2 separate regions of the Homo sapiens genome follow, and region 1 is linked to region 2. The links come from fine-mapping of genetic effects on gene expression. Tissue or cell type: whole blood. Region 2 holds a variant in brackets; the other region holds the start of a gene. All regions are shown on one strand. Distances are from middle to middle.

Region 1 (8,090 bases), 27 kb after region 2:
ACTTTTGGGAGGCCGAGGCGGGTGGATCATGAGGTCAGGAGTTCGAGACCAGCCTCGACAACACGGTGAAACCCCGTCTCTAGTAAAAATACAAAAAACTAGCTGGGTGTGGTGGCGCGCCCAGCTACTCATGAGGCTGAGACAGGAGAATCGCTTGAACCCAGGAGGCAGAGGTTGCAGTGAGCCACAATTGCACCACGGCACTCCAGCCTGGGCGACAGAGCCAGACTCCATTTCAAACAAACAAACAAAAAGAGCAAGCAAATATCACATATTTTATTTGTAAATAAACTGAAAGTTTACTAAATCGGCTGGGCGGTAGCTCACGCCTGTAATCCCAGCACTCTGGGAGGCCGAGGCAGGTGAATCACCTGAGGTCAGGAGTTCGAGACCAGTCTGGCCAACAAGGTAAAACCCTGTCTCTACCAAAAATACAAAAAAGAATTAGCGTGGTGGCGCACGCCTGTCATCCCAACTACTGAGGAGGTTGAGGCAGGAGAATCCCTTGAACCCGGGGGTGGAGTTTTACGACACTGCACTCCAGCCTGGGCGACAGAGCAAGTTTCCATTCCAAAAAAAAAGAAAGTTTACTAAATCATTTTCTAGACAAGCCTGCATTTTCTACCAGAGTTTTTACCAGAGTTTTAGAACCATTTCCCCAGCTAATTCAAACTCTCAAGAAACAGATTTCTGCCAGACTAGTGACTGGGGTCACCACAAGCAGCCCCTTCCAAACCTACTGACCCTCTGACCAGTCAGAAGCCCACGAACTTGCGGTGGAGGCACTGGGTTTGACTACTCATCAAGAAAGGTCTCAGAAACTCAGAAGATTACCTCCTTCGGATAAGGGATGTAGCCAGCATAGGCCAAGACAAAGGTGCAGAATTTGTTGAAGTCTTCCACGGTCCTGCGCCTCTTGCAACTGGGGGAGTATTCCTATTAAGGGGAGAGAAAAGGGAATGTGTTTGAAGGAGAGGCTTCCAGGCGGAATCACAGAAACAAAAGGAAGTAAGCTGGAACTTTTGTAGTCAATCACTCAAAAAATACCGTTAGATTTACACAGTCCACAAACAAGATACGGTAAGTTCAGGTCAAGAAATAACACTATTTTCAGAGAGCAGAAAGAGGAGTATTAAGACTTTATGCCAAGAATGCTGGGAAATCAGCTGGGAGATAAAAACTTCTACAAAAGTCTATTTCTTAGTGCTCATGTGGCATTTTCTGACTTTATCTATTAGTTTCCACAGGCCTATCAGGCGAAGCTCTAATAACTACTTTTTTGCTACAGATTTTCCATTCTGAGTATGAACTGCTGCAGCAGCAGCTGGAACTGATGTATGTTAAGTGATTTCAAAAATCAACCACTCGCCGGGCGCGGTGGCTCTCGTCTGTAATCCCAGCACTTTGGGAGGCCGAGGCGGGCGGATCACGAGGTCAGGAGTTCGAGACCAGCCTGACCAACATGGTGAAACCCCGTCTCTACTAAAAATACAAAAATTAGCCGGGCGTGGTGGCGTGCACCTGTAGTCCCAACTACTCAGGAGGCTGAGGCAGGAGAATCGCGTGAACCCGGAGGCGGAGGTTACAGTGAGCCAAGATCGCGCCACTGCACTCCAGCCCGGTAGACAGAGCTAAGATTCCAACTCAAAAAAAAAAAAAAAAAAAAATCAACCACTCATTCTCCAGAGCTCTCGGAGACCTGGACCCTGGAGTTCACTCCTGGCTGACCCTGCCAAGCTAGCGCCACCTGAGGACCCCTCTCTCGTGCTCAGAGGGTCCCCTCCACTGTCCCAGCCAGTCGGGATGCCAGGCACCCAACTATCTCAACTCACAATAAACCAAGAACCTTACTGCGAAGCTTAGTCTTACATTTAAACGGAATAGTGGAGGTTTTTGCTCGCGGGTCCCAGCCCCATTCCATCTAGAAACACCCATCACAAAAAGATATTTTCTCCTGAGAGAAGCACGGAGAGATGGAGCTCTTATTTGCTCCTAAGCAAAACAAGTGTGCCGTATTGCTGTTTATTCGCCCGGCACGTTCCCTGAGGTTCCTTTCAGTGCCTTGTCCGACCCACCCCCATCCTTCCCGAGGTGCTGTTACCCGGCCGCCACTCTGCTGGGGGAGAGCCGGTGGGGAAATGGGGGGCAGGGGTCTCGGGCCGCCCCTCCCGCCGCGAGGAGCAGGCGTGCGGCCCGCGGGTTTTCTTTCGAGAAAGTCGGTGCCCTTAGAAAATTATTTTCTCAACCTGGTTCAAGCAAACCTTCTCCTCTCCCACCCCCTTGGACCCCAGGGCCGCCCACGGAGCGGAGGCGAAGGCCCGCGTTGACCGCGCTCCCCGCACTGGCGAGCCTGCCCAGCCACGGGAACCGCGGGCCGCCACCCGGGCCTCCAACTCCCGCGAAGAACTTTTCTTTCGGCGGGGAACCAGCAGAAGTGGGTCAAAAACCCGAATGCCAAGTGGAGGGCGGCGACGGCCTCGGGCCGGGGGCGCGCGGGAGGCACCGGCGCGGGGACTGGGGGTTCCACGCCGCCCCCACACGGCCCACGCCGCCCGCCCCCCCGGCCGCCTCCTCGGAAAGCAGATGGCGGAGCGGCCCCCACCCGCCCTCCCGCGGCAGCCGCCCCCCGCGACACTCGGCCCCCGAAGGTGCGGGGCCCATCCCGCGAGTATGTGTGAGGGGGGTGCGCCAGGCAGGATTCCGGGGTCCCAGGCCTGGGGAGGCCCTGCGAACCCCCGGGGGCGGCAGCGAGACCGGCGGGCTCCGGCGCCGCCTCCCCTCCCCCACCCGCCCGCGGTCGCCGGACCCGCACCCCCGACCCCAACGAGCCTCGGCTGGGGGGAGGGGACCGCGCGGGGGGGAGGCCGGGAGCCCCGAGGGCCGATCCCCGGAAGGAGGGGGAGTGAGCCGGGGCGGAGCCAGCAAAGCCCGCGGGCGGGGGGCGGGGGCCCGAAGAGAGAGGCCAGCGCGCCGGGGGGCGGTGGGTGGGGGCAGGACTCGGGTCCCCAGAGCGGGTGGGGCCCCCGGAGGACGCGGCCCCCGAGAGCCGTAGGGGGCGGGGGCCGACTGGGCCCCGCGCGGAGTCAGGGGGCGGGGCGCGGGCCACCGGGCCCGGGGGATCGGGGGAGCAGCCGGGGGCCTCGGGAGCCGACCCCGGTCCGAGGGGGGCCTAAAACTCCTCGAGAGCAACCGGAGCCAGGGGCGGGCGGCGGCTCGGACCGCGTCCCCGGGGGCGGGGAAAGAGTAAGCAGGCCGGCGGGGAGGGGCTGGGGGCGCCGACAGGTCCCAGGTCGACGCGAGGCCGGAGAGGGGCGGCCCGGGGGAGAGAAATAGGCGCAACGGCCCTGGGGAAAGGGCGCGGGGAGGACGCGGAGGTCCGCGGAGGGGACGCGGAGGCGAGGCCCGGCGGAGAGGACCGAGCGCGGGCCCGAGCAGGGGGCGGGGGTTGGGCTCCCGGGGGGGCCGACGAGGGGAAAGCGGGGGAAGGGGAGGGCGGCGCTCCGGGCGACCGGGGGTCTGGCTGCCTGAGGACGGCAGGATCGCGGAGGGGGTGGTCGGGGGCGATTCGGACGCACAGCTTCACTCACCTCCGGGTGGAAGGCGGCGGCGCAAGAGTCAGAGTCCATGTTCCGGGCGGGGGGCGGCGGCGGCTGCGAGAGTGCAGGAGCTGGGATGCTGGAGCGGGGCCGCCCGGGGCTGGGGGCTCGGGCGGCTGCGCAGGGCGAGGGCGGACCCGGGAGGGGTCGCCCGGGCTGGAGGTGATGGGGGGCTCAGCGCGTCGCTTCTCAAGCTCTGTGACCCCGGACTGGCGGTTCCACCGCCGACCGGAGTGGACGATGCAGCTCCCGCGGCGGTAGAGGCGGGAGAGTGGCTGCAGGGGGCGGCGGCGGCGGCGGTGAGCGGGAACCCGACCGGCTCCCCGACCTGACGCCCAGTTCGGCTCGTGTCTCGGGAGGGAGGGCGGGAGAGCCGGGAGGCCTGTCGGGAAATGTAGTCTGGGTGGCGACTGGAAGCCAGCGGCGAGGGGGCGTGGCGCGGGAGGCGGGCGCGGTGCCTTGTGGGAGTGGTAGTCCAAGGCCCCGCCAATACTGCGCACAAAGGAAACCTTGGGGACTCCAACCCCCATGAGGCTCCGCGGCGGCGGCCCCGGTGTGTGGAGGCGGGTCTTCTGGACTCGAGGCCGCGCGAGCGGGGGAGGTGCGGGGGCCCGCGCCGGCTCGGCCGCGGGGGGAGGGGCAGTGTGAGCGGTAGCGCCTTGGTCTCGGCGGGCGCGGGGGCGGGAGTCGCTGCGGCGGTGGGGGCGGGGCTGACGGCCCGGGTTGCGAAGGGCGGCGGCGGCTGGCACCTACCCTTCCTCGTCTCCTACTTGGGGTTCGCGCCCCTTTGTGGGGCGGGGGTCCCCGAGGCCTGGCCGGGAGTAGGGGCGGCAGGGGCGGGGACGCTGACGTCGCGGCCGCCCCGGGCATCGCTCCCCGCTCCCCGCTCCCCGCTGAGGGCGGAGTCGCCGCCCGGCCCCCGCTCCAGGCCGGGCTCAGCGAAGTTGTTTTCGCGGCTGCGGGCTTCGTGCGGCTCCCTGCTCCGGGCCCGCGGGGCCGGGACTGGACCGGGCTCTTCTCTAGGCATCTGCGGGATTCACTCGAGGTGGCCGGGTTCGTGCATTAAAAACACCGGGCCAGCGTTGTCAGTGTTCTAAAGAGGTGTGCGTTCAGTTTGCTTTCTGTTGCCGCCTAAGCCTAACCTTGGGACCGGCCGTTTTCCCACTCTCCTGAATATCCTCCGGCCCGCAGGGCGAGGCGGAGACGCGGTGTTTGGCGCTGGCATCGACTGGTACTTGTTTAGTGGTGTTTAACTGGGATGGGCAGTGTGTAAACGCTGGACCGCAGAGTATCCGACAGCTGTACGTGTGGAAGGCTGGCCGGACACGGTGGGGACTGCCCCTATGCGGTGACCAAAAGGCGGTCTGACGGGAACATTTTTAATATTCGAAAGTGGGGGAAAAAGGTAAGTACAAAACGCAGATGATTCAGTAACCTGTTTGGTAGCTTCGAAGAAGTTAAAGGGGAGTGACACAAAATTGAAAATTCAAATTAGAAAACGAACTCTTGGAGATACTAGTAAGATATTTGACAGGCGCCGAATGCTCCATCAAGCTGGCTGTTGCTATTTCAAGGGTTATGATCATTCTGATGAAGATATTTAATAGTTAGGAGATGGTGTTAATCTTAGAAATACTTCTCTGAGCGGCCGGGCGCGGTGGCTCGCGCCTGTATTCCCAGCACTTTGGGAGGCCGAGGCGGGTGGATCACGAGGTCAGGAGTTCGAAACCAGCCTGACCAACATGGTGAAACCCCGTCTTTACTAAAAATACAAAAATTAGATGGGCGTGGTGGCGGACACCTGTAATCCCAGCTACTCGGGAGGCTGAGGCGGGAGAATTGCTTGAACCCGGGAGGCGGAGCTTGCAGTGAGCCGAGATCGTGCCACTGCACTCCAGCCTGGGCGACAGAGCGAGACTCTGTCTCAAAAAAAAAAAAAAAAATACTTCTCTGAGCCTCAGTTTCCTAAGCTGTTAAATTTTAGCGTAGTGCCTGGCTAAATAAATGGTAGCTTACTGTTGTTGTTGTTGTTGTTGTTTTATTATTTCTGCAATATTGTAGCCCATTGGAGGGCTTCCCAAAGGTGATAAATTGAGGTACTTTACAAGATAAAACATGAAATTACTGATTAAAACAGAGACATTGGACTTGGCCCATCGAGACTTGATTAACAACTTCTTATACAATTGCACAGATGATTTAGCCAGATTTGGAATGTTACCTGGTTACTGTGACCAAAGCAGATGCCCCGAAGTTAGCCTGTATTGCCCAAGGTCATATTCACAAGGAGCAACTCGTTTTGCCAGAATAAGAAACACTGCTAAGGTGTTGATCCCGTTGGTAGTTTAAAAATGTAAATACCAAAAAGAATAATTCTTTTTTTTTTTGGAGACAGAATCTCCCTCTGTCGCCAGGCTGGAGTACAGTGGCGCCATCTCAGCTCACTGCAACCTCCACCTCCCGGGTTCAAGCGATTCTCCTGCCTCAGCCTCCCAAGTAGCCTGGACTACCAGCGCCCACCACCACGCCCAGCTAGTTTTTGTATTTTTAGTACAGACAGGGTTTCACCATGTTGGCCAGATGGTCTTGATCTCTTGACCTCGTGATCCGCACACCTAGGCCTCCCAAAGTGCAGGGATTACAGGCGTGAGCCACCGCGCCTGGCCAAGAATAATTATTAGAGGTGAAACCCAAGTGAAAGAAGAGGGATTTTTTTTTTTACACCTCATTATTATCCCCTGTGGTAAATGTGTCACATAATAAACATTAAATCCTTTCCCACACACACACATATTAAGAAATTATCGGGCCAGGCACGGTGGCTCACACCTGTAATCCTAGCACTTTGGGAGGCCGAGGCAGGCAGATCACCTGAGGTCAGGAGTTCGAGACCAGCCTGACCGACATGGGTCAGGGAGGTGGAGGTTGCAGTGAGCCGAGATCACGCCATTGCACTCCAGCCTGGGCAACAAGAGCGAAACTCCATCTCAAAAAAAGAAAGAATGGCCACCCGCCTCAGCCTCCCCCAAAGTGCTGGGATTAACAGGCGTGAGCCACCATGCCAGGCCTAATTTTTTTTTTTTTAAGACAGGGTCTCCGTATGTTGCCAAGGCTGTTCTGGAACTCCTGGGCTCAAGGGATCCTCCCACCCAGGCCTCCCAAATTGTAGAGTTTACAGTCCTGAGCTATCTTGCCTGCCTGGAGTGAATACCCACTCTGAGCAAAAGTTATCACTTGAGTCTGAAAATCTGTCCCCTGACTCAATCCATGTTTGGGATTTTCCTTCCTTGATGTAACCAAGTAGTCCAATATAGGCCTGTGAATTCTAAGCTCAGTTTTGTCAACAAGTCCATTATTCTGAGTAGGTCCTTCATTTCCAATTTGAGAGTTTATTCTTCTTTCTTTTTTGAGACAGTTTCACTCTTGTTGCCCCTGCTGGAGTACAGTGGTGTGATCCTGGTTCACCACAACCTCTATCTCCCGGGTTCAAGCGATTCTCCTGCCTCAGCCTCCTGAGAGCTGGGATTACAGGCATGCGCCACAACACCCGGCTAATTTTTTGTATTTTTAGTAGAGACGGGGTTTCACCATGTTGGACAGGCTGGTCTTGAACTCTTGGCCTCATGTGATCTGCCTGTCTCAGCCTCCCAAAGTGCTGGGATTACAGGCATAAGCCACCGCACCCAGATATTTATTGAATATGTTTTTAGTAAACAGTAATTTTTAGTACATAGATATGACCTGTACCTTCCTGCTACTCCAGTGAAAGAGAAAACTTCAAGAAAAAGGACCTCTTTTGTCTTTCCATTTCCCTTAGAAATACAGCCCTTTGGAGGAAATTTAGACATTAATGTTTAGCATCCTTTCCCTAAATTCAGAAAAAGGACTATACCACTTGTAGTTGACCCAAACGATCTCATAATATGTAGCTGTGGAGTAATAAAGTTGATTTTCTCACGCCTGTAATCCCAGCACTTTGGGAGGCCGAGGCGGGCGAATCACGAGGTCAAGAGATCAAGACCATCCTGTCCAACATGTTGAAACCCTGTCTGTACTAAAAATACAAAAATTATCTGGGTGTGGTGGCACGCATCTGTAGTCCCAGCTACTCCGGAGGCTGAGGCAGGAGAATGGCGTGAACCCGGAAGGCAGAGGTTGCAGTGAGCGGAGATCATGCCACTGCACTGCAGCCTGGCGACAGAGTCAGACTCCGTCTCAAAAAACACAGTTGATTTTCTGTGACAGGATTAGGTTTGTTCAGTATCTCCCGTTTTTTTCATAGGTGTATTGTACTACTCCTGGGCTGCAGGGGGCGAATCTGAAATTCCTTGATTAGTTCAAGAACATTCACCACAGTAGCCAGATCCTTGGAGTCTATGATTCTTTGTTTTCTGCTAAAAACAAAAAACAAACTAATTATACCAACTGCTGAATACTAATTCTCAGATGATTATAGTTACTTAGGAGAGGAGGAAAAAAGCCAACGTTAGCACA
Region 2 (8,090 bases):
GTGGTGGAGTACGGAGCTGAGAGGAAGATCTCCAGGCACAGCGTTTTGGGTGCAGCTGTCAGCGTTGGAGTTCCACAGGGTGTTTCTCTCAAAGTCAAGTAAGTTGAACTTAGGCCTTTCGGGTCAAGGAATGCCTGTCACCTTCACTCAACCAGGCTTTACCCAAGTTAAGGCTGAAATAGCCTTTGCATTGTAATTTTGTTCTTAAAGACACAGTTGCTTGGCTAGGTGCAGTGGCTTATGCCTGTAATCCCAGCACTTTAGGAGGCCAAGGCGGCCGGATCGCCTGAGGTCAGGAGTTTGAGACCAGCCTGGCCAACGTGGTGAAACCCCATCTCTACTGAAAATACAAAAATTAGCCAGACGTGGTGGCACACGCCTATAATCCCAGCTATTTGGGAGGCCGAGGCAGGAGAATTGCTTGAACCCGAAGGCGGAGGTTGCAGTGAGCTGAGATGGAGATCGTGCCACTGCACTCCAGCCTGGAGGACAGTGAGACTCCGTCTCAAAAAATATAAAAAAAAAAATTCAGCCAGGTGCCGTGGATCACGAGGTCAGGAGATCGAGACCATCCTGGCTAACATGGTGAAACCCCATCTCTACTAAAAATACAAAAAATTAGCCAGGGGTGGTGGCGGGTGCCTGTAGTCCCAGGTACTCGGGAGGCTGAGGCAGGAGAATCGCTTGAACCCAGGAGGCGGAGCTTGCAGTGAGCCAGGATCGCTCCATTGCACTCCAGCCCGGGTGACAGAGTGAGACTCCATCTCAAAAAAAAAATACAGTTGCTTGTGTCTTTGCTGAGTAAGCAAATGTCAAGCAGTGCATAGTTCCAACACCGAGTGAGTGAGGTGTACGTCTGAGCTCCAGCAGCCTCGCCTGATGTCACAGGATGCATCCTAGCAGCCCAGTCCTCCTGGAGTCACTGGCCTGGCAGCTATCCCCCGGGCACAGCATCTCCAGTAGCAGCTGCCATATCGGTTCATCCCTCTCACCAGGGGTTTCCATTGGCACACATACCCTTGCTCCACCTGAGTCTAGTCACTGTCCTCTCCTTAGTTCCTCAAAAGAGTTGTCTGGTTTTGGCCGGGCACTGTGGCTCACACCTGTAATCCCAGCACTTTGGGAGGCCAAGGCGGGCAGATCACGAGGTCAGGAGATTGAGACCATCCTGGCTAACACGGTGAAACCCCGTCTCTACTAAAAATACAAAAAATTAACCGGGCGTGGTGGCGGGCGCCTGTAGTCTCTGCTACTTGGGAGGCTGAGGCAGGAGAATGGTGTGAACCCGGGAGGCAGAGCTTGCAGTGAGTCGAGATGGCGCCACTGCACTCCAGCCTGGGCATCAGAGCGAGACTCCACTCAAAAAAAAAAAAAAAAATGTCTGTTTTCGCTTGCATCCGTCTTCTTTCTTTCTAAACGTGCTCCAGTCAGGCCTCTCCAGCAAAACCAGCCCTCTCCAGAATCAGCCTTTCTCACCTCATCAGTGGGGCACCCTCCCTCCTGTGGCAGATCAGAGGGTGATTCTTCTTCATCTCATTTGGTCTCTGCACCTGCTGTCGCGGTGGCCGTTCCCTCCTGCCCTTACAGCCTCTCTGCCCTGAGTTTCCAGGATACCACGCCCTGCTCTGGCTTTCCGTACCAGATGGCTGCTGTCTCCCAAACCCCTAAATGGAGGCACCACTGCAGGGCACAGCCCTTCTCTCTCGACTCACTCCCAAGCAGTCATGTCCAGCCTCATGGCTCTCATGCCCTGAGGACTCACGTTGCAAGTGCCAGCTTGGACCACCCCCTCAATCTCCAGCTCATATATTTGTCCAGCTTTCTCTTCCTAATCTCTACTTGGATACCTAACAGCATCTCAGATGTCACGTATCCAAACAGAACTCGATCCCTCCCTGTGCCCCCAGAAACGAAGAACCTTCAGAACCTGCTCTGCCCGAAGTCTTTCCCATCTCTCTCTCTTTTTTTATTTTATTTTTATAGAGACAGGGTCTCACTTGGTTGCCCAGGTTGGTTTTGAACTCCTGGCTTCAAGTAGTTCTCCCGCTTCGGCCTCCTAAAGTGTTAGGATTACAGGTGTGAGCCACAGCGCCCAGCCTCCTTTCCTATCTCAGTAAATGAGAGCTCTGGCCTTCTACTTGCTCTGTCCAAAAACCTTGGAGTCAGCCTCGATCTCTTTCTCTCCCACACTCCAAATCATACATATCTCAAAATCATCTCCTGAACATGTACTCCAAAATTGTATCCCCAGTCTCGCCATTTCTCAACCTCACTGCGGCCAGCATCTTTGTCTTAGTTACACAGCACCCTCCCCACGGAACCTGTCTCCCTCCTTGTGTGTCTGCTTTCCGTAGGAGAGTCCTTTTTAAAATTGAAGGCAGTTCACGTCTGTCTTCTGCCTAAAACCTCAGAGGTTCCCTCAATTCCAGTCGGAGGCCAAAGCCCTTCAGAGACTTTGGAGCCTACAATGCCCTCCGTGATGTAGTACTCCTCTCTACCCCAACCCCAGCCATCCTGACCCCCTGGAGCTATTCCTGGCACACACCAGGCCCCCTCCTGCTTATGAGGTGGCCTTTGCTATTTCTCAGTCTGCAGATAAATACGTGGCCATTTCCTTCACTCCCTGTAAGTATCTGCTGTCTGCTCAAATGTCCCCTAATTCACCTTGTATAACATAGTAGCCCTTCCCCTTGCCCCAGGTGATCCCCCCCACCATGTTTGCCATGTTCAATCTCCAACGAGCCAGTCTCCATCTGAAGGGCCATCTCCTGCACTCCTCATCAGACATAAGCTCTTGGACTTGGTCCATTTTATTCTCACCCGCACTTCTAGAACCTAAAACCCATCGTGGTACTTGAGAGGAACTCAGTGAGTGAATCAAAGTGGATCACAGCTCAGTTTTGGAAACAAAGCCAAATCACTTACCTAGATTAGAGCTGGCGTCAGCCATCTCTCCTCAGATAATATTTGAAGGCTCAGTACAGTGGCGCGCACACTTTGGGAGGCCAAGACAGGAAGATCACTTGAGCCCAGGAGCTCAAGGTGGTAGTGAGCTGTGATTGTGCCCCTCAGCCTAGATGACAGAGTGAGACCCTGTCACTTCAAAAAAAAAAAAAAATTTTTGTCTTGAAGTCTACCTTATCTGTTACTATATAGCTTTTTTAGTCTTCTTATGCTTACTATTTATTTTTTTTACCCATTCACATTTAACCTGTCTCTGTTTGTGTGTGTGTGTGTGTGTGTGTGTGTATATATATATATATATTTTTTTTTTTTTTGGAGACGGAGTTTCGCTCTTGCACCCCAGACTGGAGTGCATTTGGCTCACTGCAACCTCCACCTCCCAGGTTCAAGCAATTCTCCTACCTCAGCCTCCTGAGTAGCTGGGATTACAGGCGCCCACCACCACACCCAGCTAATTTTTGTATTTTAAGTAGAGACAGGGTTTCACCATGTTGGCCAGGCTGGTCTCAAACTCCTGACCTCAAGCGATCCTCCTGCCTCAGCCTCCCAAAATGCTAGGATTACAGGCGTGAGCCACTGAGCCTGGCCAAGTTTTGAGTGTTCTTTATCAATTCTGGAATTGCTTTTATTCTGGAAGAGCTTTTATTCTGGAAGAGTGTGATCAGGTATTGTCAGTGGCTACTCAGCATGTTTTCTTTTTCTGGCTTTTCAGCAGTTTGTGATGTACATAGATAAGGCTGTTGTTGTATTTATGATGCTTGGGGTTTCCTAAACTTCTTGCATCTGTAAATTTCCTTTTCCTCACTGGGGCTCTAATTACCAATATATTAAACTTAACACTCTTCCACGGGTTTCTGAGATTCTGTCCATGCATCCTCAGTCCTTTTCCTCTTGTTGACCAGGCTGGAGTGCTGTGGTACAATCTGCCTCCTGGGTTGAAGCGTTCTCCCGCCTCACTCAGCCTCCCGAGTAGCTGGGACTACAGACAGGTACCACCACGCCCGGCTAATTTTTGTATTTTTGGTAGAGATGAAGTTTCACCATGTTGGCCAGGCTGGTCTCAAATTCCTGACCTCAGGTGATTCGCCCACCTCAGCCTCCCAAAGTACTGGGATTACAGGCGTGAGCCACCACGCCTGGCCAAATTTTTTATATGTGGTCCAGAGTTTACACATTGGTCCAATAGGAGCTACTTTACTCAGCCACCACTGGAAGCAGAACCTCCTTAACTGACTAACTTTTGAAGTCTTCACTAACTTCTTTGGAAACCTCAGTTAAGAACTGAGATGTGACTCTCCAGTGACATCTGGAGGAGCCCATTCCTGTCCTCTCCAGCCTATGACTGAATGCACCTGTAGGGGACGTTGACCCCGTGAAGTGTTCCTCTTGTTGCTTTGGCTTGAGGTCAGCAGACACTGGGATCTTTCTTCTGTCACAGTGTCAGATCCATCAGCCAGACTTTGGAACGGGAGGCCAGAAGGTGGTGGACTGTGAAAGGAGCAGACTGCAGGCTCCTTTAACTCGCAGCTGCACGCAGCACAAGTTCTCTTCCTGTGCCTGACACCCCATTGCCCTTCCCTGGAAAACCTGATTCATCTTGGCTTTTTTTTTTTTTTTTTTGTATTTTTCCCCAGGCTCAACAGGGCCAGTCAGACATACTTCTTCCCTATTCACTTGACGGACCAGCTTCTGCCCAGCGCCATGTTCTATGCCACCGTGGGGCCTCTAGTGGTCTACTTTGCCATGCACCGTCTGATCATCAAACCATACCTCAGGGCTCAGAAAGAGAAGTGAGTTGACAC[G/A]TCATGGGCATGTCACTAGCCAGCCCTGTGCCTCAGTTTCCTCACCCTTAAAATGGAGAGGATAACAGAGCCTCCTGCGTCGGGTGATGAGGAAACCTGAATTAAGTAATGCATGTAAAGCACTTAGGCTGATGTCTGGGTCACGATTGGTAAATGTTAACTATTTCTCCTCATTGTCCGTAGTTGGACTGCTGTTATCTCTTCGTTTGTAAATCTTACTCTCAGAAAGGACTGGAGTTTATAGAAGTGTTGGGCCTCGGCTGGGCGTGGTGGCTCACGCCTGTATTCCCAGCACTTTGGAAGGCTGAGGCAGGTGGATTACCCGAGGTGAGGCGTTCAGGACCAGTCTGGCCAACATGGTGAAACCCTGTCTCTACTAAAAAAATAGAAAAATTAGCCGGGCGTGGTGGCACGTGCCTGTAATCCCAGCTACCTGGGAGGCTGAGACAGGAGAATTGCTTGAACCTGGGAGGTGGATGTTGCAGTGAGCCTAGATTGCGCCATTGCACTCCAGCCTGGGTGACAGAGCAAGACTCGGTCTCAAAAAAAAAAAAAAAAAAAGTGTTGATCCTCTAAACCATGGCCTCAAGAAAGAAGAAGTTTTCCTTTCTCCTTTCCCAGCGCTGAGTTTAAGAGGAATGCGTTCTGGATCCGTATGTGAGGGGCCTGCGTTAACTAGAGTCTTGAAAGTCACAGAAACACAACGTTTTTGCAGTTTCTTAGATAATCCATTGGGGCATGCCGTGAAACCTAAATTATTAGTGCAAGCATCTCTACAGAAAACTGAGAGCTGGTATAGATTTGTTACTTTATAATATCTCATTTAGTAAAGCATTGCACTTAGAGAATCTCAGATAAAGGAATGAATCTCCTCTTCTGGGCCCGTCTGGCCTTTGGACTCAGAATCCTAATTCCCTAGGAGGCTTGAGGCTTAGAACAAGACATGTGCTGGCCCAGCCTTCTCTCAGAAGGGAGGACAGGCATATGCTGACCCCAAGGCCCATACTTTGTTACAGGAAAGCGGATCTGTGTGTCTAAAGTGGTATTAGTTGTTCCTACCAAAAGTGTTATTTAACAACTCACGCCTGTAACCCTAGCACTTCGGGAGGCCGAGACAGTAGGATCACTTGAGCCCAGGAGTTCGAGACTAGCCTGGGCAATATAGTGAGACCCCCATCTCTATCTTAAAATTAAAATTAAAAAAATAATAATCCCACAAGGTTGGTGGGATCTCCTGAAATTCTCCTGTGGTGGGGTCTTCTTTCCAAAGAGACTGACAGTCGGTGTCCCGTCAGCTTGGTGAGGAGGTGGGGCAGAGCCATCTAAGGATAAAATGAAAGCTGCCAGCCTGTGACTAACAGACTTGCCTGAGACTGTCGTGGGAATATTTTTTAAAGTTCTACAACTGAACTCCAGTAAGATCACAGACTGTTTGCTGGGCTCGGGTCCAGCACGGGAGGGGCTGTGTTGGCTGGAAGCTGGGCAGCGCCGCGCTAACGTGGGGCTTGTGTTCCTCTCGCGTAAGGGAATTGGAGAAGCAGAGGGAAAGCGCCGCCACCGATGTGCTGCAGAAGAAGCAAGAGGCGGAGTCCGCTGTGAGTGCTGCCCCACCGTTCCCAAGCGAGGGCTGTAGGGGACACACTCCACACCCCACATGTTGGTCTCAGGGCCTTAGAGGTCAGACTTCTCTTCTCCAACAACTTGGCTCTCCACTTAGTCTTTATTGTGGGATGCGACACTGGGCTCTGCAGTCCCTGCCCTGAAGATAATTACCCTCCAAAGGCCTAACAAGGGCTTTTTTAAAGTGGTGAGTATTGGCCTCTTTTTCTTCCCTCTGAGTGTTCTGCCTTTTACTGAGCAGGAGGGAGCAGGCTTCCTGGGTATGTGGCGAGCATACTGCCAGGTGGCCATGGGCCGTGTGCGCGGCCTGGCGAGCACATGCCTGTCTGAGGGGGCGGCACAGCTATGCCCAGCAGAATGGCACCACAGGAGAACACAGGTCCTTTCTCAAGAGGAGCTGGGATTCCAGCTTCTCCTGTGAAATCTCTTTATTTTTAAAGCTGACAACGCATTGTTTTTTTATTGGGTCAACAAATCCCACCCACGCATTAATGATCCCTAGAAAGGGAGCTCCCACCGGTGGCCACCGGAGGGTCATGCCGTTTCAGGTGCTTCTCACCTTCTGACCCAGAGCTGCCTGCCCTAGGTCTAGGAGTTTCAGAGTGAGCCACTCGGGTAGCAGAGCTGTCAGGGTGCCCACTCCCTTCCTTTCCAGGCCCTGAGCAAGTATGTTGACGTGGACAAGACTGCCTGCCTGTGGCCCTCTCACCAGAGGTGGAACAGGCCTGGCAGGGCCCTGACTGTGTCATCCTTGTTCTCTGGCAGGTCCGGCTGATGCAGGAATCTGTCCGAAGGATAATTGAGGCAGAAGAGTCCAGAATGGGTGAGAACATGTGTCCTCTCTTGGTCCAGGGTGGGCGCTGGGGGTCTCTAAGCCACACAAGGAGGTGCCTGGAGGAGGCCTTCCTCTACTCGGAGTCTGTCCTTAGGCCTCATCATCGTCAATGCCTGGTACGGGAAGTTTGTCAATGACAAGAGCAGGAAGAGCGAGAAGGTGAAGGTGATTGACGTGACTGTGCCCCTGCAGTGCCTGGTGAAGGACTCGAAGCTCATCCTCACGGAGGCCTCCAAGGTACAGCAGCACCAGCCACCACATGCTATGTGCTCACAGATTTGAACAGGCTGGGCGCGGTGACTCAGGCCTATAATCCTAGCACTTTGGAAGGCCAAGGTGGGCGGATTGCTTGAGCCCAGGAGTTCAAGATCAGCCTAGGCAACATGGCAAAACCCTATCTCTACAAAAAAGAGAAAAAATCAGCTGGGCATGGTGACACACACCTGTTGTCCCAGCTGTTCGGGAGGCTGAAGCGGAAGGATTGGTTGAGCCCAGGAGGTTGAGGCTACAGTGAGCTGTGATTGTGCCACTGCACTCCAGCCTGGGTGACAGAGCAAGACCCTGTCTCAAAACAAACAAACAAACAGTGGTGTGAAGAATAGGTTCAGTCTGACAAGGACAGCCTGGCCCCTTAAAGTGGGATCTTTGCCGTCATCAGCATCTACTGTGTGGGATGCTGCCCAGCTCCTGAGTAGTACCCACGTTGGAGCTATTCTCTTCATTCAGTCATTTCTTTCACCACTCAGTAAGGATTTACTGAGCCCCTGGTGTGTGCCAGTCACACCAGCAAACAGAACACACGCCTGCCTTCATGGCATTTGATTCTGTTTATTTTTGCCTCATTCCAGAAAGATCATGAGGTCACTTGT

The links. PIP is the estimated chance that this variant, and not a neighbour inherited with it, causes the effect.
Region 1: PHF13 starts here. The variant in region 2 is fine-mapped to the expression of PHF13 in whole blood (TOPMed, PIP above 0.99).

Annotation. Positions count from the first base shown.
Region 1 is chr1:6,609,603-6,617,692 of GRCh38, reverse strand. It overlaps PHF13 (PHD finger protein 13), which reads right to left and starts at 3,962. Exons shown (of 4, transcript NM_153812.3): 1 at 3,588-3,962; 2 at 835-936. The coding sequence starts at 3,626. LOC107984913 (a long non-coding RNA gene) reads left to right here and starts at 4,306. Exons shown (of 2, transcript XR_001737882.3): 1 at 4,306-5,001. RefSeq lists silencers at 2,774-3,233, 3,374-3,463, 3,634-4,413, 4,464-4,513.
Region 2 is chr1:6,636,566-6,644,655 of GRCh38, reverse strand. It overlaps DNAJC11 (DnaJ heat shock protein family (Hsp40) member C11), which reads left to right. Exons shown (of 16, transcript NM_018198.4): 10 at 1-98; 11 at 4,599-4,754; 12 at 6,292-6,361; 13 at 7,152-7,209; 14 at 7,316-7,458. Among named protein-coding and RNA genes, the nearest start is that of THAP3, 16 kb to the right of the region's middle. The variant G/A (reference allele first, on the strand shown) is at 4,767.